4 linked regions of the Homo sapiens genome follow. The protein of the gene in region 2 purifies or fractionates together with the protein of the main gene of each other region. This does not show direct contact. Each region holds a gene or a part of one and is shown on either strand. Other genes may lie near its edges.

The links.
Region 1: the proteins of RECQL4 (region 2) and MAPK14 purify together in Homo sapiens (affinity purification with mass spectrometry; 4 studies listed by BioGRID and IntAct, with this or other methods). This does not show direct contact.
Region 3: the proteins of RECQL4 (region 2) and TRIM26 purify together in Homo sapiens (affinity purification with mass spectrometry, with the first as the bait; 2 studies listed by BioGRID). This does not show direct contact.
Region 4: the proteins of RECQL4 (region 2) and SIRT1 purify together in Homo sapiens (affinity purification with mass spectrometry; 3 studies listed by BioGRID). This does not show direct contact.

The regions. Positions count from the first base shown.
Region 1 is NC_000006.12:36,100,796-36,107,819, reverse strand, and holds part of MAPK14 (mitogen-activated protein kinase 14), read right to left. Parts: intron 5,250-7,024; coding exon 5,171-5,249; coding exon of another isoform or gene 5,118-5,170; exon of another isoform or gene 5,056-5,117; intron 366-5,055; coding exon 192-365; intron 1-191. UniProt on the Homo sapiens protein: Serine/threonine kinase which acts as an essential component of the MAP kinase signal transduction pathway.
Region 2 is NC_000008.11:144,514,834-144,522,210, reverse strand, and holds the start of RECQL4 (ATP-dependent DNA helicase Q4), read left to right. Parts: upstream 1-4,377; 5' UTR 4,378-4,426; coding exon 4,427-4,510; exon of another isoform or gene 4,511-4,575; coding exon 4,576-4,609; intron 4,610-4,702; coding exon 4,703-4,797; intron 4,798-5,020; coding exon 5,021-5,161; intron 5,162-5,446; coding exon 5,447-6,223; intron 6,224-6,320; coding exon 6,321-6,447; intron 6,448-6,753; coding exon 6,754-6,885; intron 6,886-6,968; coding exon 6,969-7,061; intron 7,062-7,138; coding exon 7,139-7,275; intron 7,276-7,377. Other genes in the region: LRRC14 (leucine-rich repeat-containing protein 14), read right to left, coding at 733-1,300, 1,389-1,973, 2,157-2,485. UniProt on the Homo sapiens protein: An ATP-dependent DNA helicase which unwinds dsDNA with a 3'-overhang in a 3'-5' direction. Does not unwind more than 18 bp of dsDNA. May modulate chromosome segregation. The N-terminal domain (residues 1-54) binds DNA Y-shaped DNA better than ss- or dsDNA.
Region 3 is NC_000006.12:30,189,400-30,196,423, forward strand, and holds part of TRIM26 (tripartite motif-containing protein 26), read right to left. Parts: intron 637-7,024; coding exon 614-636; intron 135-613; coding exon 19-134; intron 1-18.
Region 4 is NC_000010.11:67,887,656-67,894,679, reverse strand, and holds part of SIRT1 (NAD-dependent protein deacetylase sirtuin-1), read right to left. Parts: intron 5,799-7,024; coding exon 5,557-5,798; intron 3,279-5,556; coding exon 3,126-3,278; intron 1-3,125. UniProt on the Homo sapiens protein: NAD-dependent protein deacetylase that links transcriptional regulation directly to intracellular energetics and participates in the coordination of several separated cellular functions such as cell cycle, response to DNA damage, metabolism, apoptosis and autophagy.

The sequences.
Region 1 (7,024 bases), on a different chromosome or scaffold from region 2:
ACCAGACATAAGTATCTCAAAGGTCCAGAGAGTATCACTGTCTACAACAGTTTCCACCAGAGAACATATTCATTCTGCATTAGAGACCTCATCTACAAGCTTTAGCAAGTTGGTTATGACCATTCAGTTTTTATTTTTCCCACCGCTTTTGGTTAGTGGTTCAAGATGTTAATCCTACCCTTAGGACTTACTTTTCCACTCATCTATAAGGAGGTCCCTGCTTTCAAAGGACTGATCATAAGGATCGGCCACTGGTTCATCATCAGGATCGTGGTACTGAGCAAAGTAGGCATGTGCAAGGGCTTGGGCCGCTGTAATTCTCTTATCTGAGTCCAATACAAGCATCTTCTCCAGCAAGTCGACAGCTATCAGTACCATAGACAGGAAGGAAAAGAGTTTTTAACATGTTACAAAAAAGTATGCCTTATTGAGCAAACATAGTTTTGACCCTTCATATCCAAACAAAGAACTCTCCTCCAAAATACCTACTCTAGGATATATTAGCCCTCTTCTCCTTTATGTGTGTATGTGTGTGTGTGTGTGTGTGTGTATCTGTATTTTCTATGTTTTAAAATTTTTTTATTTTATTTTTGATTTGGGGGTACATGTGCACATTTGTTACATGGGTCTCACCACGGACTGATGGGGACTGGGCTTCTAGCGTGCCCATTAACCAAATAGTGAACATTGTACCCGATAGGTTATCTCTCAACCCTCACCCTCCTCCTGTATTTTGTATTTTTAAAGAATATGTTACTAAAGAAGAATTTTTTTAAATGACTGGGATTCTGTTTGAACAGGCTTTTGTGGACCGTCAATGTCAAACTGCTACCAGTGTAGTCAAACTGTATAAAACAAAGCCTACAGCTGAAGTAACCTACAATAGGTAGGCAGGGCTGTTTTTTTTTTGTCCCCCTAAGCTGTTTATTTACTAACATCAAATATTCATCAACAGATCTTCAAACAGTGAATAAACTGGGGGTTTTACATGGTGATGAGGGTGAGACATGGTATTAAAATCAAAGGGAATTTTATTTTTAAAAATTTCACTATGAAAAATTTCAAATATACAGAAACAGAAAAGTAAAAACTATGATAAAGTGAACACTCATATGCCTAGCATATTCAACAATTAACATTTTTATATTTCTGTATTTATATGTATTTTTTTCTGAACTGTTTTAAAATAAAATTATAGACATGACACTTTACCCTCCCCAAATATTTCAACACGAAGACATCTTCCTATATAATCATAATACTGTTATTATCTCTGACAAATAATTTCTAAATATCATCTAAAATCCAGTTCATGTTAAGATTTCTCCAATTATTCCAACGTTGTCTTTTAGAACTAGTTTGTTGAAACCAGGATTCAATTAGGGGCCATGCACTGCAACTGACTGGTTTTCTTTAGTCTCTCTTAGTCTAGAATAATCTTCTTACTTCTAAGCCCTGTTCTTTCCTGATTTTGATCTAAAGAGACCCTCTGATTGTCCTGAGAATGACCGTTTCTCGGGATGTGTCTGATTTTGCTTCTTTTGCTGTCATGTGTCTATACCCTGCTTTCCACTATCCCCTGTACTTCCCAAAAACCGGAAGTTAGGTCAAAAATTTTGGTAAGAATCAGGTTAAACATTTTCAGCAAAAATACAGGTGATGCTGTGCACGTGACAGTGCATTAAGGCCATCTGTCCCACTACTAATGAGCTAAAATTGATCACTGGGTTAAGATGTTTCCCCTTTGACCAAAGCAAGTAATCTGCGGGATATTTTGGTACCAAGTAAATATCCATTCTTTTCACTTATGGCTTTCTGCATTCACTGGGTTTCCTTCCCAAAAGCAATTATTTCATAAGGGGTTACAAAATGGTAATTTGTCTAACTCTATATTTCAAATGAGTATTTTTGTGTTTCAGCATGGTGGCACTTGGGAGAATAAATACTGCCATATAACCAGTTATCACTGTGGTGAAAAAGGCTTTTGAGACTTTGCAAATTACTCCTTAAATGTGGAGGGTGTGGGGGTGAGTAGTGAAGAGGACAGCTTCCTATAGAGATCTACTGCTGTGTATATTGGAGGCTGTAAAACACCCGTCCTACAGCTTGAATTCCAGAGTAATCCACTGGAGAAATATGGGCTTCAAGGGGATACAGAAACAAAGTAAATATTCATGTGTCAATTCAAGTTCATAAGTTTACACTTTACAGTACTAGGTGAATGCCTGGATTATATATATATATATTCTTCTGATGGTCTTCTCTTCTTAGAAAAAGAAACCTTATCAGCTGTTGATTTTATAATTGAACACAGATTATACGACAAGTCTCTGTTACCCTTAGGGTAAAAAGGACCATGTTCTTATAACCAATAAGGTCAGGGGCAAGAACAAATTCCTCAAAGATCTTATTAGCTGGGCATGGCATTATGTGCCTGTTGTCTCAGCTACTTGGGATAGGGAAGAGGAAGGATCACTTAAACACAAGAGTTCGAGGTTATCATGAACCGTGACTGTGCCACTGTACTCTAACCTGGGTGACAGAGTGAGATGCCATCTCTTAAAAAAAAAAAATCTTGACAGATAAATACATACACTAACATCAAGGGGTAATTTAAGTTTTAATTCATGTTTTGGGAATAGCAGTGAAACAAAGTCAGTGGCTGACAAAACAGAGCTGTTAATATTTATATTTCTGGCATGTTCCTGCTCAGTTAATATGCTGGGCACGAGCTTGTGATAGTAACACTGTGCTCCATCTGCCCAGCAAGGGGAGCCTCATTATATGACATCACTGTTTGGCAATGGGCTGTAAGGCACGTTTAAATGCTGAGAAGTACAGTGCTGAGCACCAGATGGACCAAAGCCTCCTTTCAACTCATTAGCAAAGTGGTATCTAGTTCTTTTGGAGGTTTCAATGTCATGATTTCAAAGAATGGGAAGACCTATCAGGAGGTATGTGACCTAAATAAGCTGCTGGAACACAAATATCTCCCCTCTCCCCCTAAAAAATGAATTAACACATCTTTCTGAGTCTGTTAAGAGGGTGTCAGTGAGTACTGCCCTGTTCAAAACTTAAGGCTTATAAAATGAAACAACTTCAGAACAGAATGACGACAAGAAAGAACACGACGGGCTGGGTGCAGTGGCTCATGCCTGTAATCCCAGCACTTTGGGAGGCCGAGGCGGGCAGGTCACGAGGTCAGGAGATCGAGACCATCCTGGCTAACACGGTGAAACCCCGTCTTTACTAAAGATACAAAAAATTAGCCAGGTGTGGTGGCACACACTTGTATTCCCAGCTACTCAGGAGGCTGAGGCAGAAGAATCACTTAAAGCCGGGAGGTGGAGCTTGCAATGAGCCGAGATCGCACCACTGCACTCCAACCTGGACGACAGAGCGAGACTCTGTCTCAAAAAAAAAAGGAAAGAAAGAACACAACATCTTTTCCCAACATCCTGTAGTACTTAAGGCTCAAAGAGAGCTTCTCACAGACCCTTGAACTAGATAATACAGCTCAAATAAATCACACAAAGCCAATGAGAGCATGCCAGGGCAGATGCAAACCTAAGCCAGTCTCAGTAGAATCGTACCCACCCCTGATGAGACTGTGGATTCATCCTAGGGCAGGAGAGCGACCCAGCTGAGATATGACATACTCTCTGTCTCCAAGGCTGACACGAACTCATCCACAACTGCCCAAAACTTCAAAGAGCGTGAGTATCTCTGCTATTATAAGAATTATCACAGCGACACTAAAATTCCTCTCCATAATCACTATGGATGAAGTACTTAAAAAGGTAAAATCACCTAGCCTTCACCCCAGCTTCTAAAGAGGTCAGCATGGCTGTCAGCCCTCAAAAAGATAAAACTAAACCTGAAGCATAGCTGCCAAGACCCTTAAGAAGACAGATGACCCAAACAGATGCAAAGAAATGCAGTGAGATTTTAAAACACACCACACAATACAATCTTAAGAAAAGTGAGAAGGCAGATTATACTCGTTACCATAGCATAGCTCCCTTCCCTATTGTAGGGAGGTCCTGGTCTGATCCTTCTGTGTCCACCATTAAACAGCACTGTCCACTGTCCTCTTCAAGAGTCAGGGAATGAGCCTCAGGCAAAGCAGCTTTCAGGGGCCATCTGAAGCACACATCACTCCTCCCCTTCAAAGAATATAGTCCGCCAGGCACAGTGTCTCACGTCTGAATCCCAGCACTTTTGGAAGTTGAAGTGGGCAGACTGCATGAGTCCAGGAGTCCACGATTAGTAAGATGGTGAGACCCTGTCTCTACAAAGAATTCTTTAAAAAATTAGCCAGGCTTGGGGATGCATGCCTGTAGTCCTAGCTATTTGGAAGGCTGAGGCAGGAGGATCACTGGAGCCCAGGAGTTCAAGCTTGCAGTGAGCTATGATTGTGCCACTGTACTCTAGCCTGGGTAAAAGAGCGAGACCCTGACACTACCAAAATAAATAAATAAATAAATAAATAAATAATAATAATAAAGCAACTCCTTTTTTAGCCAAGGCAACACATATCTTCAGCTGCCACCATCACTTCCCTCTGCCAAGGATCTTGAAGGCATAGGAAGCCATTCCTTTAAGTTTAGGTAGCAAATAAGCTCCACAAACAGGAGAGGACGGTTATGCCTCTGAGGGCAGAGAAAGAAGAGGAGAGGGGAAAAGTTCATGAGTGTGGAAGACGACAGGATCTGTAGCAACGGCAGCTACCGTTAGAGCAGAGCACCCTGCAGGGAGCTCCTGGGTGGCTCCTCTAAACACCCACCTGCACTTCAGTGGTTTCTGTCCTCCACTCAGAGACACCATAAATCCACAGCAGTTGTGAGCAAGTTACAGCTTTCTTCTGTATCTGCTTCTTCCTGCCTCACCAATCTTTTCTCTCAACATTCCCATTACTTTCTCTCCTTTCTCCACTGTACCTGCCCATTCCCCCAATCCCAAGTTCTGTGATCATTTAAACATACAATCATCTCATGTGATTAAAAAAAAATCTGACAACACAAATAGATAATAAAAGCCGTATTTATCACCTTCCAAGATTCAACTAATGGTACTTTATTTGGTCAAAAGGAGAAACTCTTCTTCAAATCCCCAATTTATATCATAACCAATTCAATATCCATGAGGTGAGGATATATGGTCAACTTACCCAGGGGATTGGCACCAATAAATACATTCGCAAAGTTCATCTTCGGCATCTGAGTCAAAGACTGAATATAGTTTCTTGCCTGAAAAAACAAGGGTTTTCAGAATGACTTTGTTCAATAATGTTACTGCTCTCAAAGAAAGAATCTTGGTCCTGCTAAGGAACGAGTGTTAACTGACAAAGTCCACTAACTTCAGTGTTTCTAACTGTCTTTGATAGAACTTCTCCCTTACTGCCATCCTAACTTCCCTAGTTATGATCATCACCTTCTTTATTCCTGCTATCTCTCACAGTTGCATTTCAAGTGAACGAGAATGCTCATCAATCAAATTCTCTTTCATTAGCTTTCTGATCACAGGATGAGAAGTTTAAAAACTGAGGCCAAGATATGTAAGAAGTAGCCCTGAGACAGCCTTCTCAAACAGCTAAATTGGTAGAGGGGTTGGTATTCCCAAAGCAAGTCTTGGACCAGCAGTCTTTTGACAGTGCTGACTTCAGTAGGTGCTCTTAGTACATCAAAGGATATCAATATTAAACCTTGCTAACAAAGTAACGGTGGTAACAAAAAAGTTAATATAAACTTAATATAACAGTCCTACCTCACAGGGTTGGAGTGAAGATTAGAGATAACAAACCTAGTACTTTCTTAACACAGTACTTGGTTCCAAGTGACAGTTCAAGAAACATTATCTGCTATCCCACTATCACCTTCAGAAGCAAAGTCTGCTGTCTATCTTAACCACCTCTTTAAAACTCCTGTTTTAATACAGTCCAACAGTAAAAGTATGTATGTATATTTATGTTTACACATACACACACAAGTTTATAAAAAGTTCTGGTTGCCCAGGCACGGTGACTCACGCCTGTAATCCCAGCACTTTGGGAGGCCAAGGTGGGCAGATCGCTTGAGCCCAGGACTTTGAGACCAGCCTGGGTAACATGGTGAAAACTTGTCTCCAAAAATACAAAAAATTAGCCAGGTGTGGTGACGCATGCCTGTGGTCCCAGCTACTTGGGAGACTGAGGTAACAGGATCGCTTGAGCAGGGAGATGGAGCCCAGGAAGCTTGAGCCCAGGAGGTGGAGGTTCCAGTGAGCTAAGATCGTGCCACTGCACTCCAGCTGGGGTGACAGAGTTAAGATCCTGTCTTAAAAAAAAAAAAATCTGGTTGCTTGGGCAAGTTCACCTTCTTTATTTATTAAAAAAATTTTTTTAGAGACACAGTCTCTGCTCTGTTGCCTAGGCTGGAGGTCACTGGCACAATCACAGCTCACTATGGCCTCTAACTCCTGACTCAAGCAACCCTCCTGCCTCAGCTTCCCAAGTAGCTGGGACTACAGGCATGTGCTATCATGCCCTAATTTTTAAATTTTTTTGTAGAGCTGCAGTATTGCTGTGTTGCCCAGGATGGTCTCAAACTCCTGGGCTCAACTGATCCTCCCATCTCAGCCTTCCAAAGTGCTGAGGTTGCAGGTGCACGCCACCACACCCAGCCTTCCGCTTCTTAATTATTGCATGTGGAGTCAGGAGGAAAGGTCTGCTTTGAAAAGCAATTGAGAATCTTTCTGATTTGAAAAGAAAGTTTTAGGAATTGAATACATAAATGGCTGTAATCCCTTTCTACTTGAACATGTAAATAAAAAGAGGAAGGGAAAACAGGTAAGAGAGAACTATCTCATTCAGAGAACAGTCATCCCTTTAATAAAGATAAATCAAAAGACGACCTGAATATAGCTGAAGTAGAAACAAAGCTGCTGGGAAGGGCCCTCTGTGATGCCAACCTGGTTCCCCAAAATATTAAGGGTATCTTACAAAGAAAGAAGTGCCCCAATCATCTCTGATAATAAAACAAGAGTT
Region 2 (7,377 bases):
CAGTAGGATCTTGGGCCTCCGAAAGGTGGGAAGAGCAAGGACTGGCCGGCAGTGCCGACGGGGCTGCCCCGCGAAGGGCGGGGCGACAGGCTGGATGGCAGTTGTTGCCGGGTGGCCATGTTGGGGGTGACAGCAGAGATAAGGATAAGGGTGACCAACGTGGACAGAAAAAAAAACAGCCACAAATTCAACTTCCAGGCACATGTGTACCTTGATGACCCCCTCCAGCCCGAGCCCAGCCCAGTGGGGTGGCTGGGTGGCAGGGTAGGGAACACGTAAGAGGCGTGAGTGCCTGGGGACTCCCAGCTTCCCTGAAGCAGGCCTCTGTCCAACTTCAACCCCAGAAGCACTGAGCTCTCAGTAAAGGGAGAGGAAAGGCCCAGAGAGGCCATCATCTCTCTCAGCTCACAACTGGAATCCCAAAGCATTTGCACAAAGGACCAGGACCCCAGACGGCAGCCAAATGCAGCCAAACTGAGCAGGGCAATGGAGGCCTGACATCCAGCCCCGGGGCCCACAGATGATCAGCCAATTATGGAGCAAGTGCAGGGAAAACCGCGTGGGGCACTGCAGAAAGCAGGGGAGGCTTGAGGTGTGCCCAGAAGCAAGGTAGACCCAGCAGGAAACCAGTAACCAGTGCTTTTGTGAAGGCCTCCACCAGGGGTCCCAGCAAAGGCCCTGCCTACCTAAAGAGACTGCAGGGCGGCCTGTGTCTCACCCAGAGCTACTTCATCATAGGCTGAAGTAGTCCGCAGCCAGTCGCCCGTAGATGTCCGTGGTCCAGAGCACATGGGCACGGCCTGAGGCTAGAAGCAGCTGGTGCAACTCAGCTTCTACGCGGGCAAACTTCTCCTCATTGATGGAGGCCTCCAGCAGGACAGAGGCAGGCGGCGGCCAGGGCAAGCCCTCATAGCAGTCCACAGGGAAGGGGTGCACCACAGTACGCAGCTCAGCCTGTGCCACTGAGTCCCGCAGCAGCTCCTTGAGGCCCGCCATGGACAGTGGGTTGCCATAGAGGCCAAGGTACCGGAGACTGGCGCACTGAGTCAGGATGGGTAGTGTGGCCAACAGCTGGGTGTCTGCGAGCTGACACTCAGTCAGCTCCAGATGCAACAGTGTGGCTGCTGATGCCTGCAACAGACCCTGGAAGGGTGCCAGCTGGCTGCCAGACAGGTCGTTACCACTCAGGTCCAACTTCTTGAGGTGGGCAGCATGTGGGCTCCGTGCCAGGAAGCGTAGGTCCTCAGGCAGCAGAGCACAGAAGGCCAACTCCAGGCTCTCCAGGGGGCTCTGCAGGGTGCTACAGGGGACACAGGGGTCACAGACAGGCAGAGCCAGGGAGGGTCCCTACAGAAGGGAGGGGCAGGGCAGTGGTGGGGCCCGCTCACCTGAGCAGCTGGTCCAGCCTCCCTGAAAGGAGAGAGGAGCCCATGCTGAGCTCACGCAGACAGGTGAAGCGGCCCATCTGGGCAAGGAAGTAGCGGAAGTTGTCCTCGCCATCCACGGAGGGCTGCCTTGAATCCCCATGCACATAGTGGAGCCGCAGGCTGGCCAGGTGCTGGAAGCGGGCCACGTGTGGGATGATCACAGACAGGCCGCGCAGGCCCAGATTGTTGAAGCGCAGGTCCACGCGGCGCAGGCAGCCTGCATCCAGAAGCTGCAGCAGGGCCACAGTGTTGCGCATGGGCAGGTCCTCAGCTCGCAGGTCCCGGCAGCAGAGCCGCAGCGGGCTGCCCACGCTGCTTCGGAGTGCCTCCCGCAGGAACGCATAGGAGGCCCGGTTCACCCGCAGGTCCACGCGCACCTCCACGGGGATGGGGGCTGGCCCAGGCTCTGCGGCCCCACCCTGCTGCTGGGCAATGCATGTGCGAGCTACGGCAGCAGTACAGTCCCACATGCTCATGGTGCCAGGATCCTGTTCCACACCATCATCCAAGAGGCCCGTCATGTCCAGCACCCGCAGCGCATGCTTCCTGGGAGTAGGAATGGTGTGAGGAAGGGGTGGAGGGGCAGCGCCCATACCCCCTCCCAGCCACCTTGGGACAGGAGCAACGCGCCTGCTCCTGCATGAGCTCTTGCTAACTTTATGACCCAAGCCTCCTCAGGGGACCCACTTACACACCCCTGGCCTGACGACCCTCCAGATAAGTCCATACCTGCAGAGGGGCTGTGTGCTGGCCCCAGGCTCTGAGGTGTGGAGCCGGGCAGTCAGCCCCAGGATAACAGCCTGCATGCTCTCAGTGCTAGGCCGCTCCTGCAGGAGGGCACGGCTGCAGTGGGCACACTCCTGTAGCAGCTGCTGGAAACTGAGCAGCGGGAAGGGCCACGTGTGTACCAACTCGCGCAGTACCACTGTCTTCTTGTCCATGAAGGCCACCTTGAACAGCAGGGGGAAGAGTTCGCGTGGCAGCAAGGGCAGGGCCTGGCAGGCAGCTGGCTGGCACTGCAGCACCTGCCGTGTGCTCAAGAACACAAGCGTGTGCATGGTGCTGGGCCGGGCAGACGGCCACCTGCAGGAGAGGGACTTCAGCAGGGAGGAGAGACCCTAGGCCACTACCAAGCCACACACAAGTGGTAGGAAGGCCCAGCATAGTGCCTGAAACAAAGTCAGCAGTTAGCAGTGGCCATGGCACAGAGAAGCACCTATTAGATGCCTAGCGCTGGGCTGGGTGCAGTGAACTGGCAGACAAACTCACAACTCAGCCCCAGCCCTCCAGATGCACAGGATCTCTTTAGAGAAACTAAGCGTCAAGCAGTGTGGCATCGTCAACAACTCGCTTGCTTGGGTATGCTTTTGACAGATGCCTGTTGCCTTGCAGGGCCCCCCATGGGTACTTCAGGCCTCTCAAATTACAAAGCTGCTTCACAAAACCTTCTTCGAAACCTGAATAAAGCCCAGGACTCTCCCCACCAACCTTCATCAGCATTAGTATTGACGGGACACTCTAAGGAGTCAAGCAGCCAAATCACCTTTCCCTCCCCTCTCCTCACAGATGCTCTCCAGGGCTACACTTGGACTCCACAAAACACCAAAGAGCTGGAAGCACAGAAGCAGCTTCATAAGCAACAAGGCAGGTTGAAAAGACCGAGACCCAGGGAACACCGAGTCCAGATGATGTAGCCTATAAAATACAAGCCCCCGCAAAAGCTACTATTCTCCAGAGCGTCACCAAGCACGGAGACCCCGAAAGAAAGCAACCCTCACCTTTGTTGGCCCTTACCACTGGCCTAAACCTCTCCCTCTTCCCTGGAGAGCCACTGTGGAAAGACCAAGTCTTAAGTATGTGGGATTCAGAAGGTGCAAAGCTACAGACTGCTCAGACAAGGCAAAGAAAGCTGCCTCAGCAGCACCCAAGCTGCAGAGATGCACAAACACTCCCAAGGCCACAAGGTACCTGTGACACAGGGTGCCAGCCCTGCTGCTGCCTGTAGCATCCTCAAAACTAAATCGCAGCCATCTCCCTGTGACAGATTAGAAAATGAAGGCCTCGGCCTGGCCCAAGGTCACAGCCTGAGTGACAAGCCAGGGAAGGGGGCCGGGGAAGACACTCTGGCCCCAAGGCCCTTCTTTTTGTCGACTTTTCCACATACAAGTAAGTCCTTAAGGCACCGGTTCCTGAAAAGTCCCAGACACCAACCCTCGGCCTAGTTCTGCCGGTGGACAGATCTCAACGATCATACTCGCTCTGACAGGACAGACCAACCGAGCACTTGTCACGGGAGAACACCAAAGCAGACGGCCTGCCCACCAAGGGAGGCAGGCACCTCCGTGCGACGCCCCCTCCCCTCCCGCCGGCCGCAGGGAACGCGACGGTCCTCGGTCGCCTGCGTTTCGCGAAGACGCCCCCGCCCGGCTCCTCCGGGCCTCGAGCCGCGGGAGGCGCTGGACCCTCCGCTCTTTCGCCTCCCGAGCGGGGCCTGCTCCTCCAGGTCGGATGCGTCTCCCACCAGGGCCTGACGCCGCTCCGACCGGCCCGGGGACTCCCAGTCCTTCCCGGCCCGCGGTGGCACCTCCCAGGCTCCCGGCCTCGGCCCCGGGCTCCCAAATGCAGCCACTGCCTCCCTCGGCCAGGCCGCCCCGAGCGACCGGTGCCCCGCCCCTTGAGGCCAGGCAGGGCCAGGGGCGTGCGCCGCCCCGCTCAGACACCCCCCCGGCCGCCCGCGCTCACCGGTCCCGCAACCGCAGCCACCGCCTCCAGCCCCGCCTAGACCGTCCGCCGCTCCCCGCCCGGCGCCGCGGCGCCCCGCGATGACGTTGACGCCTCCCATTGGCTGCTTGTCCGAGGCCCGACGGACTGGCTGCCCAGGGGCGGTGGCCCCGCCCCCGGCCCGCCGCGCATCCGCATTGGCTGTCGGCCCCCGCGACGGCTGCGCGGGAGATTCGCTGGACGATCGCAAGCGCGGAGGCCGGGCGGGCGCGCGCGCCATGGAGCGGCTGCGGGACGTGCGGGAGCGGCTGCAGGCGTGGGAGCGCGCGTTCCGACGGCAGCGCGGGCGGCGACCGAGCCAGGTGCGGGCTGCCCAGGGGCCGAGGGGCTGAGGGCGCGGCCCGCGGCTGACGCGTTCCCTTTACAGGACGACGTGGAGGCGGCGCCGGAGGAGACCCGCGGTGAGCGCGCGGCGGGGCGGCGGGGGCGAGAAGACACCGGGTCGGCAGGGGCCCAGGCCCCACCCTGACCCCGCCTCCCGCTCGCCCACGCAGCGCTCTACCGGGAATACCGCACTCTGAAGCGTACCACGGGCCAGGCCGGCGGCGGGCTCCGCAGCTCCGAGTCGCTCCCCGCGGCGGCCGAAGAGGTACCCAGGCCCCGCCGCCCCAGCCTCCTCCCACTTCCCTGTTTGGCGGAGTGGCGGGAGCCACGGAGTCGCGGCCAGGCCGCCGTGGGGCACAGAACTTGGGAGGGGGACTGGGCAAAGTGAAGAAGGGCCGGGCCTCGCTCCAGGTGCGGGAGGGGTGGCTGGGAGCGCTTCTGCCGCCACAACAGCCTTTTCTGGCCTGTGCCCCTGTTGTCTCCTGCAGGCGCCAGAGCCCCGCTGCTGGGGGCCCCATCTGAATCGGGCTGCGACCAAGAGTCCACAGTCTACGCCAGGGCGGAGCCGCCAGGGCTCGGTGCCGGACTACGGGCAGCGGCTCAAGGCCAATCTGAAAGGCACCCTGCAGGTGAGGAGTGGGCAGGCAGTGAGTCCACGCTAGGTCCACAGCTGCTTCCGGTCCGGGTCGCCCTCTTGTCATTTTTTCCACACAGACAGGCACGGGCCCCTGTGCCAACCAGGGCACGAGTCTTCAGGGAGCTTCTCGGGGCCTTCGCCCTTGACTCCCTTTCTAGTCCAGCCTTGTGCTAATTAGCCTGCTCTACAATTGAGCGTGGGGACTCAGGTAGGTTTTAGAGTCTACAGTAGCTCAGGGGCCTGAGTTCCTCCTGCTGTTCTGTTGTTCCCCTCCCAGGCCGGACCAGCCCTGGGCCGCAGACCGTGGCCTCTAGGAAGAGCCTCATCTAAGGCATCCACCCCAAAGCCCCCAGGTACAGGGCCTGTCCCCTCCTTTGCAGAAAAAGTCAGTGATGAGCCTCCACAGCTCCCTGAGCCCCAGCCAAGGCCAGGCCGGCTCCAGCATCTGCAGGCATCCCTGAGCCAGCGGCTGGGCTCCCTAGATCCTGGCTGGTTACAGCGATGTCACAGTGAGGTCCCAGATTTTCTGGGGGCCCCCAAAGCCTGCAGGCCTGATCTAGGCTCAGAGGAATCACAACTTCTGATCCCTGGTGAGTCGGCTGTCCTTGGTCCTGGTGCTGGCTCCCAGGGCCCAGAGGCTTCAGCCTTCCAAGAAGTCAGCATCCGTGTGGGGAGCCCCCAGCCCAGCAGCAGTGGAGGCGAGAAGCGGAGATGGAACGAGGAGCCCTGGGAGAGCCCCGCACAGGTCCAGCAGGAGAGCAGCCAAGCTGGACCCCCATCGGAGGGGGCTGGGGCTGTAGCAGTTGAGGAAGACCCTCCAGGGGAACCTGTACAGGCACAGCCACCTCAGCCCTGCAGCAGCCCATCGAACCCCAGGTACCACGGACTCAGCCCCTCCAGTCAAGCTAGGGCTGGGAAGGCTGAGGGCACAGCCCCCCTGCACATCTTCCCTCGGCTGGCCCGCCATGACAGGGGCAATTACGTACGGCTCAACATGAAGCAGAAACACTACGTGCGGGGCCGGGCACTCCGTAGCAGGCTCCTCCGCAAGCAGGTAAGACAGCGACGGGCCAGGACAGGCATTCCCTTTCCCTCCCCTCAGCCCTCCCGTATTTCCCGCCCAGTGACCCTCCTATGTGGGCACCCCCCAGGCATGGAAGCAGAAGTGGCGGAAGAAAGGGGAGTGTTTTGGGGGTGGTGGTGCCACAGTCACAACCAAGGAGTCTTGTTTCCTGAACGAGCAGTTCGATCACTGGGCAGCCCAGTGTCCCCGGCCAGGTGAGACATCTGCCCTGGAGGGTGGGTCCGGCCAACACTGTGGAGAGGGCGCAGTGCTCTTTTGGGGGACACTTATGTTCCAAGCAACAGGCCTTCCAGGTACCCCTGGTCCAGGCCCTACCCTAGCTCCCCTGAAGGAGGGTGGCAGGGACGACGATGGCTGTCACTCTTTTCTGCTTTGGAAAAAGTAGCCCAGAGGAAGGGCACTGCCTGCTGCCAACCCCCTTTGGGGGAAGGAGAGGTTGTGGCCAGTGGTTGTCTTGCCCGACCTGGAGCTCCCATTCTACCCTCTCCTGCCTGCCCCAGCAAGTGAGGAAGACACAGATGCTGTTGGGCCTGAGCCACTGGTTCCTTCACCACAACCTGTACCTGAGGTGCCCAGCCTGGACCCCACCGTGCTGCCACTCTACTCCCTGGGGCCCTCAGGGCAGTTGGCAGGTGAGCAGTCAGCTTCTGGCCCAGAGCCTTCACTGAGGGGTTGGGGTGACTCAAGTCATGGTGATCAACATCTGTGTCTGCAGAGACGCCGGCTGAGGTGTTCCAGGCCCTGGAGCAGCTGGGGCACCAAGCCTTTCGCCCTGGGCAGGAGCGTGCAGTCATGCGGATCCTGTCTGGTGAGCGTGGCTGCCAGGGCTGAGGCTGGGCTGAGGCCAGGCTGCAGAACCCTGCTGCTGACTCCCGCCCCATCCAGGCATCTCCACGCTGCTGGTGCTGCCTACAGGTGCCGGCAAGTCCCTGTGCTACCAGCTCCCAGCGCTGCTCTACAGCCGGCGCAGCCCCTGCCTCACGTTGGTCGTCTCTCCCCTGCTGTCACTCATGGATGACCAGGTGTGCACACAGGGCCCTGGGCACACGTACACAGCCAAGAACCAGCACTTGTGACTCCCAAGGGCAACTGCTGCTTGTCCCCTAACCACCCCCTCCCCTGGG
Region 3 (7,024 bases), on a different chromosome or scaffold from region 2:
GCGCTCCCCAACCCTTACCCTGGAATTCCCTCAGGCCTCGTTGCAGAGAGAGGAGTTTATCTGAGAATTCTCCGGTCTTTTTTTTAACCACTCGAGCAATGGGTTTCCCAACCCAGAACTTCTTCCGTGGATACCTAAGAAGATGACATACATAACAAGCTGTTACTCAGCTCTTCTTACTTTCCTTCATACTTATCTCTCAATCCTCATGGCAATTATGAAGGGGAGAGGAAAGGTATGATTATCCCCAAACAAGTGACAGAAAAACAGTGGCCCAAAGACACCAGCTGAACCAGGGCTTCAGAACATCAGTAGACTCCACATCCAGGGCGCTCTGTCTACTAAGCCATGTTTCTAACCTCTCTGCTCTGTCCCACCTCAAATAAGGCCAGTGGGCCAAGGAGCTGGGGCTACACAGAGAACCATAAGGAGGAGAGCAAGTCTCCAGTTCTCAATGATGTGTCCTGCTCCTCAGAAGGGCATCAGGATGAACCATGGGATGTGAGTACCTCTGGCACCATACCACTCCCCATGAATTCAAATGCACCTGGTCAGAAGCGGGGGAACATAAACAAGGGGGATGAGGTACGCCATGGAGAGGAGACTCTTTTACCTGTTTAGGAAGTCTCTCGTGTCCTAGAAGGGAAAGAAAAAAGCACAAGTATCAATATGAATCAAATAAGACTTCAATGCATCTGCACCCAACACTGTAGCAGAGATGGGACATATCAGTGAACAAAACAAATGTGGTCCCTTTTTTATGGAGCTGACATTCCAGTGGGGTCACTGCATAAAACAACAAGAAAACAAACAAAATCGGCACAATGACAGAAGCCACAATGGCTGGGAGATGACATGGGCAACCTCTCTGGGAGATACCTGCGCAGAGAATTGACGGATAAGAAGTACTGGCCGGATGAAGAGAGGTAAGGTAAAACAGGAAAGGGCTTGGTGAGAACGGCAGAGGCCAGACTGCGCAGGGCTGGATATGCATGGTAAGGAGTTTCACTTTTGCTCCACGTACAGTGGAAACCCACCAAGGGTTTCAAGTAGGGGCATGATATGTGTGATCCGCTCTACATGTGGCTGAGACTGCTGTGTAACCTCCAGAGTCCACTCTCCCCTTCCTCCTTTTAATAATAGAACCCCCGGAGTTATTGCTGGTCAGGCGGCCACCTGGGAAGACTACATTTTCCAGATCCCCTACGACAAGGTCTGGTCATGAGACTAAGTTCCAGCCAATGGAATGTGATAGAAAGCAATGACCATAATTCTGGGCATTGTCCTTTAAAAAAAGAAAATTGCTTTCTACTTCCTTTTTACCCCAACTGAATTTTGGACATGGTGGTGGTGAGCCCAACTTTGACCACGCAGCAGAGGACAACATCCCTAGAAGCTGGTGGAAGAACCACATGGAAGTAACCCAGTCCCTTGGATAAGCTTATGTACAGCTACTGTGATAGCTCTAGACCCTGCACCTCTGAACTGTTAACTGAGGCAGAAATAAACTTCTATTCTGTTTGCGTCACTGTACAGCAGTGAGCCAAAACCCTAAGTGACCACTCACTTGGCTGCCCCACAGAGAAGGGACTAAGGAGGCAAGAGGAACATGGGGAGGTTGGTCCGGAGGCTTTTGCCGTGGACCAGGGGAGAGCTAAAGATGGCCTGAACTAAGGTGGTGGCAGTAGGGAGAAAAAGAGAGAAGCAATACATTCCAGGTATTTTAGAGACAGATTCAACTGGACATACTGGTCAAGGATAAACAAGAACAGAGCATGGTTTGTACAGGGGGGAGAATGGTGGTGCTATCTCTGTGACAGACAGGTGGTAGGGCAGGGTGAGTGGGAAGAGGGCTATTCTGACATGCTCAGATTCCCTTTTGTGAGTCAAAAGCCTCCTTAATACCCTGTATTAATTGATTTTTGCCTTCCTTTCACTCATTCCACAAATATTTATTAAGTGCTTCCTAGGTACCAGGCACTCATCTAGAAGCCTCAGAACAGTTAAAAAAAAAAAAAAAAAAAGAGAGAGAGAGACAAATCCCTACTTCTGTAGAGCTGACATTCTAGCAGGGGGAAGCAGACAATAATCAATGTAGCAAATACATCATACTACGTGAGTGATACGCACCACGGGAAAAGAGAGCAGAGTGAAGGGGGATGGGAGCAGGGGCCGGTGGGGTGCAGGCTGGCTTCCTGGAGAGGGTGAGATTTGGGAAACAAATGGAATTAACAAATTGTGGCTGCTGATGACTGCTTCCAAAAGTTTGGGAAGAGTTGTGAGCTTTACTCCAGAGGAATAAGACAAGAAGTCAGAGGCACATCCCAACCCCCCGCTATGAAGCAAGTGCCCAGAGACTGGTAGCACATTTCTGGCCAAGTCCTCTAACATGCCCCTCAAAACATGTAAGTCCAAGGCGGCTTCAGAGGACAGGCAACAAAACAGACAGTGTGTCCTGACAGCTCTGCTGACAAAGGTGGCATAAAAGAGCAAATGAATGGAGCAGTAGCTGGAGTGTGGGCCAGAGGCCCATTTGGGCATATTTCCTGACATGGAAGTTCCTAGAACAGTAGAAAGGGAGAGAATCATACAGGAGAAAGAAGAGTCCTCTAAAGGTTAAAGGTTGTGAGCAGCCCAGAGAGGGTGGGTCCCGAGAGCCAGGGCAGGGCTGGCCCTGAGGAGAAGAGGCTGAAAGACTCAGGAGCCCCCATCCACAGCCACATACAGGGCCTCTGGAGGGAAGTGATCCGCCCAAGTCTCCTGGAGGACTCTTCTCACCCAAGACATCTGAAGCTGTCATGAAACAGGCAGAGCCGAGCAGTGGGGCTGCGGCAATGAGTCATGGCAAGCTCCCGGAGGGGATGTGCCCGGTTACTAAGAGAGAGCATCAAGAAAGTTCTTCACGGGGGTGTACAGCAGGAGAAGCAGGGTACAAGCATGCCACCTGATCCTGCAGGGCCTGCCCGGGTTACCAGGGCAGGATGCAGTGTCTCTCTGGGCCTCTCCTGTCACCCCAATCCCTTTAATGTCTTCTTGATGCTCCCAGCCCATAGGTTTGTCTTTCCTTTCCTATCACCTCTATCAAAAGGTCTCTTCTATTTTACACATTTTGTCCTGCTGCTTCTCCCTCTCACCTGTATTTCTATTTTATTTTAATTTTTTTGAGACAGGATCTCACTATGTTGCCCAGGCTGGTCTCAAACTCCTGGGTTCAAGCAATCTGCCTGCCTCAGCCTCCCAAAGTGCTGGAATTATAGGTGTGAATCACCACACCAGCCTCACCTGTATTTCTCTATCAGACTTCTGGACCCTATTTTAGGTCTTTTTCTTACTATACTTTGACAGCCAAATAATCTCTGGGAAAATATTAATGCTAATTAGGGAGGTAGCTGTCCAGTTCCCACGCAGTACAATCAAACTCAAATAAGCACACAGACAAAATCTACCAATACCATTTTTCTGCGTATGGTTGGTTACCCAGTTTTCCTAGCACCATTTATTAAAGAGACTGTCCCTTCCCCATTGTATGTTCTTGGTTCCTTTGTTGAAAATCAGTTGGCTGTAAATATGTGAATTTATTTCTGAGTTCTCTACTCTGTTCCATTGGTCTATGTGTCTGCTTTTATATCAATACATGCTGTTTTGGTTACTACAGCTTTGTAGTATATATATATATATGTATATATACATATATATGTATCTATATACATATATATGTGTATATATATATACATATATGTGTGTGTGTGTGTGTGTGTGTGTGTATATATATATATATATATATTTTTTTTTTTTTTTTTTTAATGGAGTCTCACTCTATTGCCCAGGCTGGAATGCAGTGGCACAATCTCGGCTCACTGCAACCTCTGCCTCCTGGATTCAAGTGATTCTCCTGCCTCAGCCTCCCGAGTAGCTGGGATTATAGGTGCGCACCATCACGCCCAGCTAATTTTTGTATTTTTAGTAGAGATGGGGTTTCACCATGTTGGTCAGGCTGGTCTCAAACTCCTGACCTCGTGATCCGCCTGTCTCGGCCTCACAAAGTGCTGGGATTACAGGTGTGAGCCACCACAACTGGCTGTAGTATATTTTGAAGTAAGATAGTGTGAGGCCTCCAGTTTTGTTCTTTTTGCTTAGGATTGCTTTGGCCATTTGGGGTTTTTTGTGACTCCATATGAATTTTAGTTTTTTTTCTATTTTTCTGAAGAATGTCATTCGTATTTTGATAACAGGGATTGTATTAAATCTGTAGACTGCTTTGGGTAGGACAGTCATTTTAACAATATTAATTCTAATCCACAAGCATGGAATATTTTTCCATTTGTTTGTGTCCTCTTCAATTTCTTTCATCAGTGTTTTGTAGTTTTCATTAAAGAGGTCTTTCACCTCCTTGGTTAACTTCATTCCCAGGTATTTTATTTTACTTTTGTAGCTATTGTAAATGGGGTTGCTTTCTTGATGTCTTTTTTAGCTAGTTTGTTATTGGTGTATTAAAAATGCAGTAGACTTTTTATGTTGATTTTGTATCCTGCAACTTTACTGAATTTGTTTATTAGTTCTAAGGGTTTTTTGGTGGGGCCTTTAGGTTTTTCTACATATAAGTATAGCCGTTACGGAAAACAGTATGAGAGTTTCTCAAAAAACTAAAAATAGAACTACCATATGATCCAGCAATCTCATTACTAGGTATTTATCCAAAGAAAAGAAAATCAGTATATCAAAGGGATACCTGCACACTCATGTTTATTGTGGCACTATTCACAATAGTTGAGATGTGGACTCAATCTAAGCATCCATCAACAGATAGATAAAGAAAATGTAGCATATATACACAATGGAGTACTATTCATCCATAATAAATTTGAGTTCATGGAAGTAAGACAGTAGAATAGTAATGATTAGAGGTTGGGAAGGGGGCTGGGGAGAGGAGGGTGGGGAGAAGTTGGTTAACAGATACAAAGTTATAGCTACATGGGAAGAATAAATTCTAGTGTTGTGCAGCATTGCAGGGAGAATATAATTAACTATAATTTACTATACATTTTCAAAAAGCTAGAAGAGAGGATTTTGAATGTTCCAACACAAAGAAATGATAAGTGTTTGAGGTGACAGATATACTAATTACTCTGAGTTGATTATTATATATTATATACTTGTATCAAAGTATCACTCTAGGCCAGGCACAGTGGCTCACGCCTGTAATCCCAGCACTGTGGGAGGCTGAGGCAGGCGATCACCTGAGGTCAGGAGTTCAAGACCAGCCTGGCCAACATGGTGAAACCCTGACTCTACCAAAAATACAGAAAATAGCCAGGTGTGGTGATGTGCGCCTGTAATCCCAGCTATTTGGGAGGCTGAGGCAGGAGAATCGCTTGAACCCAGGAGACAGAGGTTGCAGAGGCAGGAGAATTGCTTCAACCCAGGAGGCGGAGATTACAGTGAGCTGAGATCACGCCACTGCACTCCAGCCTGGGAGACAGAGCGAGACTCTGTCTCAAAAATAAACAAACAAAAACCTCTACATCCCATAAATATATACATTATATAGCACTAAAATTAAAAGAGAAAACACAAAACAAAAAAAGAAACCTACCAGTACCAATAACATTTCCTATACTAGTTTCAAGCTGACACCATTTTCTCTCCCTTCCCTTGACCTTATCCCACCCCAGGGAGAGCTGCAATCTGAGTGCTCTGAGTCATTGAGGGCCAGGCTTCTGCTCTGAGGGCCACTTCTCTGGGTGCATTAGGAAAAGGCACCCCTCCGGGCAAACACAATGGATTTCAGCCCCACCACATCCTCAGCTGTGTGCCTCTGTTCCACACAGTAGGCATTCACACATGGCAGGGGCGTGAGGAGAGGAAGGAGAAGAGAAACGGGCAAAAGGAGATGCAGAAAATGACCCAGTCAAAGAGTATGACGAGAGAAATCTGAGAGAACAGAATGACATCTGGAGGAAAAGAGGGGGCCAGAGAGACATTCTGGACAAAATAAGAACAAGAGCTCAGAGCCCAGGAGTCAGGACATCTGGGCTCAAGCTGTGACCTGACACCCACCCCATGGCCTGGGACAAACTCCTCCCACTCTCTGGACCTCAGTGACTTCATCAGTAGGGGCTGAACTGGAAGGTCTAAAATCCCTGCCAGTCCTCATTCTGTACATCTGAATTCACAACAATGAGGAGCAGGTGGCCGCCTCCTTCTGCAGTCTGTCCCAGTGCACATACTGCAGAGTCTGCCTTGCTATCTCTCCCTCCTAGCTATTGCCCTGCCATTAGCCTGGGACTCCACCTTCCTAGAGATCCTGGGTGGCTCTGCTGCTGACAGACAGACCCAGCCACCCTAAACAGTGCAAGTGGGGGAATACCATCAGAGAGCCCCTCCCCTCCCAGCCTATGAGAGCAGGAAGGTTGAGCCCTCTACCCCTCCAAAGGGGACTGGGCCCTCTTCAGGGTAAGTGTGATCCCCAGAGGCTCCCGGGGGGGAGGAGATGTGGTGCCATTTCAGCTTCACAGCCAGTTCTTCAGCCCCAAACCCTCCCTTTCTCACTATCAAAGCCCCCTCCTCTAGGAGGTGCCCCGAGGCCCCCTTGTCTGCTTTCCATCTTGTTCTCTGTGTGGTAATCCCATGGGCCAAAGAAAACCTGGCCATCTCTGTCTCCCTTCCCCAGTTACCCTATCTCTTCCAGATCCTCTGGGTCTTTGAGAGGAGCTGCTGGTCAGCCCTCCCTCAGCCACCCCCAACCACAACACCATAAAAAGCTTCCACCAGCTGCTAAGTGTCTGCCAATGACTTGTTAAGAGGGCTTGTGATGGCAGTGATGAGGATGGAGGATGGTAAATGATATTAATAATCTTCCCTTCCATTTTCTACTATACCATTTAGTTTTTTGAACAGTTTTGTGTAAAAAGTTTATTTTTTGAAGTGACAGCATGCCAGTTATTTCATTTTATGCTCATGCAATCTACAGACTAATTGGCAGCAGTAAGGATTATCATCTCCATGTTTCAGATGACAAAACTGA
Region 4 (7,024 bases), on a different chromosome or scaffold from region 2:
TACACCTTATAAGTGACTGAATTTTTTTTCAGTTTAACAATAAAAAATGTATTCTCCATAACTAGTGAGTCAAGTTTTTTGTAGTTGATTTAAGATCAAAGTAACTTCTAGTTACTTGCTGGTCTTCTGATAGTGTCAATGTCTGCGCTACGTGGAGATTTTATAAATGCCAGTGTCCTAGCTCCAATTCAAGAAACCTTTAAGTCATACTTCACTGGTCTTCAAAACCATGCAGTAGTGCCACTAGCAGGAGTAGGTTAAAACAGTAAATCTTCACTAATCCATAATTAACAAAAAATAACTTTACATTATTTATTTAATCCAGGTATGAACCAGTTGTCTGCTCTAAAAGCTAGATATAGATGACCATCATCATTACGGATATATGAAGTAAAAAGTTCAAATTATATAAGTTTTAAGTTAAAAATTCTCTTGATAGCCTGAAAACTTTTCAAATTCAGTTTAGTAATCATATTCAAGAATTAATATAATTTTCCCACTTTACACTAATGCCCATTTAATATACCACAACCTGGATAAAACAAAAGTTACATGGGGTGGAGGGGTGTAGTGATTAGGGTCTCACTGTGTTGCGCAGGCTGGTCTCAAACTCCGGAGTTCAAGAGATCTTCCTATCTCAGCTTCCCAAAGCACTGGGATTATAGGCACGAGCTACTGCATCCAAAAAATCACTTTTTTTTTAAAGACAGTCGCCAATTTAAGTAACATAATTTATTCTGAATTAGCAAAGCTTCTCCTGTAGTCATGTAAATATACCACATGGTCTGAAAGTAGATAAGGCCACTGTTTAGTTAAAATTTAGGTTCATCGGCAGGGCGCGGGGCGCGGTGCCTCGCACCTGTAATCCCAGCACTTTGGGAGGCTGAGATGGGCGGACCACAAGGTCAGGAGTTCAAGACCAACCTGGCCAACATAGTGAATCCCCGTCTCTACCAAAAATACAAAAATTAGCCAGGCATGGCAGCACGCGCCTGTAGTCCCAACAACTCGGAAGGCTGAGGCAGGAGAATCTCTTGAACTCGGGAAGTGGAGGTTGTATGGTGAGCAGAGATCACACCACTACACTCCAGCCTGGGAAACAGAGCCAGACTCCGTCTCCAAAAAAAAAAAAAAAAAAGCTAGGTTCATTAACTTCTGGATTCATTAAAGAAGTCCCTATTCACAACTTCTAACGATTAGGTGGGGAAAAAGCCACTAATACAAGACTCCTTCGCTGGAAGCCATCATCCTCAGCAAACTAACACAAGAACAGAAAACCAAACACCACATGTCCTCACTCATAAGTGAGAGTTGAACAATAAGAACACATGGACACAGGGTGGGGAACACCACACACAGAGGCCTGTCAGGAGGTGGGGGGCAAGGGGTGGAAAAGCATTAGGACAAATACCTAATGAATGTGGGGCTTACAACCTAGATGACAGGTTGATAGATGCAGCAAACCACCATGGCACATGTATACCTATGTTAACAAATCTGCGCATTCTGCACATGTATCCCGGCACTTAAAGTAAAATAAAATAAAATGACTCTTTCAAATATATATACCTCCAAGTTTAACAATAACAAATTTTGTAATTTCTTTCCAAAAGACTGAAATACAGGAAAGAAAACAGTTTTCTAATGACTCAATCTCTTGAGAATGGTGTAATGCATTATTAAACTTTCTATGCTAAAGCAGAGCTGTACAATAGGTACATAATGTGAGACATACATATAACTTTAAATTGTTTAGTAACCACATTAAGGTGAAAACTGGCCAGGCGCGGTGGCTCACGCCTATAATCCCAGAGCCTTGGGAGGCCGAGGAGGGTGGATCACCTGAAGTCAGGAGTTCAACACCAGCCTGGCCAACCTGGTGAAACCCTGTCTCTACTAAAAATACAGAAATTAGCTGGGCATGGTAGCGGGCGCCTGTAATCCCAGCTACTCAGGATGCTGAGGCAGGAGAATCACTTGAACCTGGGAGGCAGAGGTTGCTATGAGCCAAGATCATGCCATTGCACTCCAGCCTGGGGGACAAAGGAAGACTACTTCTCAAAAAAAGAAAAAAAAAAAAAGTAAACTTCAAAAAACATACATATATTTTGGAAACACTCTTGCTCTGTTGCCCAGGGTGGAGTGCAATGGCAGATCATGGTTCACTCAGTCTTGAGCTCCTGAGCTCAAGGGATCTTCCCACCTCAGACTACTGAGTGGATGGGTCTACAGGTGCACACCACCATGCTCAGCAAATTTTATTATTTATTTTGTAGAGATGGAGTCTCATTATGTTGCTCAGGCTGGTCTCAAACTCCTGGGCTCAACTGATCCTCCCACCTTGGCCTCCCAAAGTGCTGAAATTACAGGCATGAGGCAACACGCACAGCCCAAAATACATTTTATTTAACCCAATATCAAAAGTATTTCAAAAGAATTCAAAATTAATTTTAAGTATTTTTTCCATATAAAAACCAATATTTGTTTAATATTTGATGAATAAAACTAATGAAATACTTTGTATTTTCCATACTGGATCTCTAAAATCCAATATGTCTTCTACACTTATTGCACATATCAATACATTTCAAGTACTCAACAGCCACATGTGGCTAGTGGCTTCTGAACTGGACGGTGCAACTCTAGAGCAGAATAATGATCCTCTGCAATTTGCTGACAAAAATGCAACCCAAGAATCTTCCCATTCTCTAATTACAAATGATTTTTCAGGCACATCCTTATGTTAAAACTTGACTACGAAACACCAAAGTGATGTTATAACCTTTACAATCTCTAATAAAATATTAAAAATCACAAGTTATGTTACTTTTATATGGTGTGCAAACCTCTTAAAAAAGCCCAGGCAGAATAACGACCATCGCTGCAGTGCAAATTTTAAAAATATGAACTATCTCTTTGAAAATAAGCTCACTCCTAAAATGAAGTAGATAATAGTCCTCCTCTAGGAATAAAGGAATTCTAGCCATAATGAGTGATCTTACTCCGCCACAGTAGCAGCATTCACTTTACTAAACAATGAACGATAACCTTAAGGTGGCTGTATGTGAACAAAATACTTTTTCATGAGAGAAGGCCAAAGAAACAACCAGAAGAGTTCATAGTACCTTTGCAAACTTGAAGAATGGTCTTGGATCTTTTCTGAAATATTCAATATCAAACATCGCTTGAGGATCTGGAAGATCTGGGAAGTCTACAGCAAGGCGAGCATAAATACCATCCCTTGACCTGAAGTCAGGTATTCCACATGAAACAGACACCTAAAATGTGCATGGCATAATTTGTAAAATTAAATCTTCTACCTTTATAGGAACTAGCTAGCTCTCTTACCATATAATTAGGTAAGAGTTGAGAAAGAAAATTTTAGTCTGAAACTTCTTTTAAGAAATAAAAATACAACCCTACCCTTATTTCAGAAATAAAACTCCCAAATAACTGAGTAAAATTAAACATACCTCATATTCCATCTTTAACACAGATAAGGAATTTTTAAGTCAGGCCAATTTTAAGCCTTTTAAGCATTTAGCCAACAAATTAAAGCAAATGCAACTTGAGAAGAAAATAAACCATTTCAACAAATTATTTTAAGTAGGGAAGAATTTTTTCTTTTTTTTTTTGTTTTTTTTTTTTTTGAGACAGAGTCTCACACTGTCGCCCAGTCTGGAGTGCAGTGGTGCGATCTCGGCTCACTGTAAGCTCCGCCTCCTGGGTTCACACCATTCTCCTGCCTTAGCCTACTGATTAGCTGGGAATGCAGGTGCCTGCCACCGCGACCGGCTGATTTTTTGTATTTTTAGTAGAGACGGGGTGTCACCATGTTAGCCAAGATGGTCTCGATCTCCTAACCTCGTGATCCGCAGGCCTCAGCCTCCCAAAGTGCTGGGATTACAGGTGTGAGCCACCGCGCCCGGCTTTTTGTTTTTTTTCTTTTTAGACAGTTTCGCTCTGACGCCCAGGCTGGAGTGCAGTGGTGCCATCATGGCTCATTATGGCCTTAACCTTTCCGGCTCAAGCAATCCTCCCACCTCAACCTCCTTAGCAGCTGGGACTACAAGTACGCACCAGCACACCAGGCTAATTTTTTGTAGAGTCAGGGTCTATGTTGCTCAGGGTGATCTCAAACTCCAGGGCTCAAGTGATCCTCCCACTTTAGCCTCCCAAAGTGCTGGAATTACATGCATGAGCCACTCCACCAGCCAAGAATTTCTATTACAGAGAAGTAATTCCAAAGAAATTGCTCCTTTAGTTAGGATTCTATTACCTCAATACTACAACAATTCTCTATTTTCATTAAAAAAAACAATGTATAGCCAGGCACGGTGGATCACGCCTGTAATCCTGGCACTTTGGGAGGCCAAGGCAGGCGGATCACAAGGTCAGGAGTTTCAGACCAGCCTGGCCAATATGGTGAAACCCCATCTCTACTAAAAATACAAAAATTAGCCAGGTGTGGTGGTGTGCGCCTGTAATCCCAGCTACTCAGGAGGCTGAGGCAAGAGAATTGCTTGAACCCAGGAGGCAGAGGTTGCAGTGAGCCAAGATCCTGCCACTGCACTCCAGCCTAGGCAACAGAGCAAGACTCAGGCCAGGAGAGGCTGAGACTGCAGTGAGCCATGATGACACCACTGCACTCCAGCCAGGGCAACACAGCAAGACCCTGTATCCAAAAAAAAGAAAAAAAAAAAAGGTGTATAATATTTCAATTCTTCATTTCTTTGAGACGTGCCCACTAATCGTACAAAAAAATCCTGACATTTCAAATAGAGATTTCAGAAGTTATTGTTTCATCATCTTACCAGAGTTGACTCCAATTTGACCTGGAGTCAAGGTCAATTTAAGTTAAACAAACTTGTCTACATCGTTATCTGTGAGCAAAACATACTCCTGATGATCATCTAAGATTATGTAACACCCTTTCGCAACTCGAAATGGCAGAAAACAGGACAAAATTTTACTACAGCAGTTGCTCTGGTTGCTAACATGTAATATACTCTGTATAAAACACACACTATGCAATAGTCTTAGGTAACTAATTAGCTGCAACCCTAAGGTAGATCAAATAGAAAATGTCAAGTCGCCACAATCACATCATCTTAATTAATATGGAGGGAAGGTAGGAATCTGTTACTCTTCCCAACACTAAGCTTTTCACTTGTGAATACCAATTAGGTTTCCAGTTTCTCATAAAGATCTAACAAATACCCAATTTCTCCATCAGACTGACATCCCTTAACAAAAGCAGAGTTTCAATTCCCTGCATCTCCTTTAGGAGCTATGATATAATGTAGGTAGAAATCTTGCCTTAACTCCATTTACCCACTGTGCTATAAATAAGCAGAAGCAAATATTTTTTTAAGGCTGGAGAGGTTTTAAAAATCTGAACTAATTTAGCAACTGCTGCTGCACTCAGTTTTTGGCAGTTCCCAAACATCCATTATCATGTAAGGATAAATCCTTCTAAACCAGAAAAATGTTTCCTACTTGGAAAAGGCATAAGAAAATACATATACGACCTCCCCATGTACTAGTCTTACATACCCCAGCTCCAGTTAGAACTATAATTTTTTTGCACTCTTGCAGTAATTTCACAGCATCTTCAATTGTATTAATATCTTTTCTTTTTTTCCTTTTTGGTGGTTCTGAAAGGATATTAATAACAATCTGCCACAGTGTCATATCATCCAACTCAGGTGGAGGTATTGTTTCCGGCAATAAATCTTTAAGAATTGTTCGAGGATCTGTGCCAATCATAAGATGTTGCTGAACAAAAGTATATGGACCTACAATAAGGGGGAAAAGGCTTAAAGTCAACTTATCAAGTAATTCAAAATCTCATTTATTTTCTGAAGTAATGAGTTAGCATTCTGTGAGGGTTTTTTGCAAAGTAAGAAAATGCAATTTAATGGTATTTCATTCTCGGTACACTCAGAATTAATGCTATATCCCAATGAGATTAGGAAGATCTAATGAAGAGTTGGGAAGACCCCCTTCAGCTGTAAGTATATATTTCAAGAGTCTAATTAATTAACAACCAGAATTAAGTTCTTATGGTTAATATCTAGAAACACACACCATAATACCAAAAGTATTTACAAAAGGGTTCTACGACATAGAAAAATCGTACCAGTCCTAAAAGCCTGTACTACTTATCATTAAAACCACACAGGAAAAAGAAATGAAAATCTATACATAACTGCCATCTTAATTTTTTTCCGGTAATTTTTCAATTTGATCTTAACCCATCTTCCAAGATAATACATACAATGTTGATGTTCTGAGAACTAATCATTTTCTTTTACCCTGAGATTGCTCAAACCAGCTCCCTAGGCTTGAGAAAACAAAAATAAATAAATAAATAAATTACAGACACCAAAGAGAAACTGATCTTCACTATGTTTAAATAATCAAGCCATTTGTAAGAGTGAGAACACAAAAAGATCCACTTTCAAGATGGTTATACCTTTGGTATAAAAAACTGATAATGCTTTCTACATCGAAATACTTTCCCATTTCATTCACATATTTATTAAATATTTATTGAGCACAAACTATGTGCCAGGCACTTTTTTAGGCACTGAAAAGACAGGAGTATACAAGTCAGTCAAAAATTCCTGCTCCCGTAGAACTTATATTCTAGACCAGGAAACAACACAATTTAAAAAGTAAGATACAGAGCTTTTCAAGAAGTGGTAAGTGTACAATAAAGTGAAAAAACAAGGAATATGAAGTGAGGGAGGAAGATATTCTAACCGGATGAAGAACACTACACAAAAAGGGGACAAGTGAGGTGGGGCAAGGTGGCACATGCCTGTAATCCCAGCACTTTGGGAGGCCCAGGCGGACGGATCACCTGAGGTCGGGAGTTCAAGACCAGCCTGACCAACATGGAGAAACCCCGTCTCTACTAAAAATTCAAAATTAGCCGGGCGTAGTGGCATATGCATGTAATCCCAGCTGCTGGGGAGGCTGAGGCAGGAGAATCGCTTGAACCTGGAAGGCGGAGGGT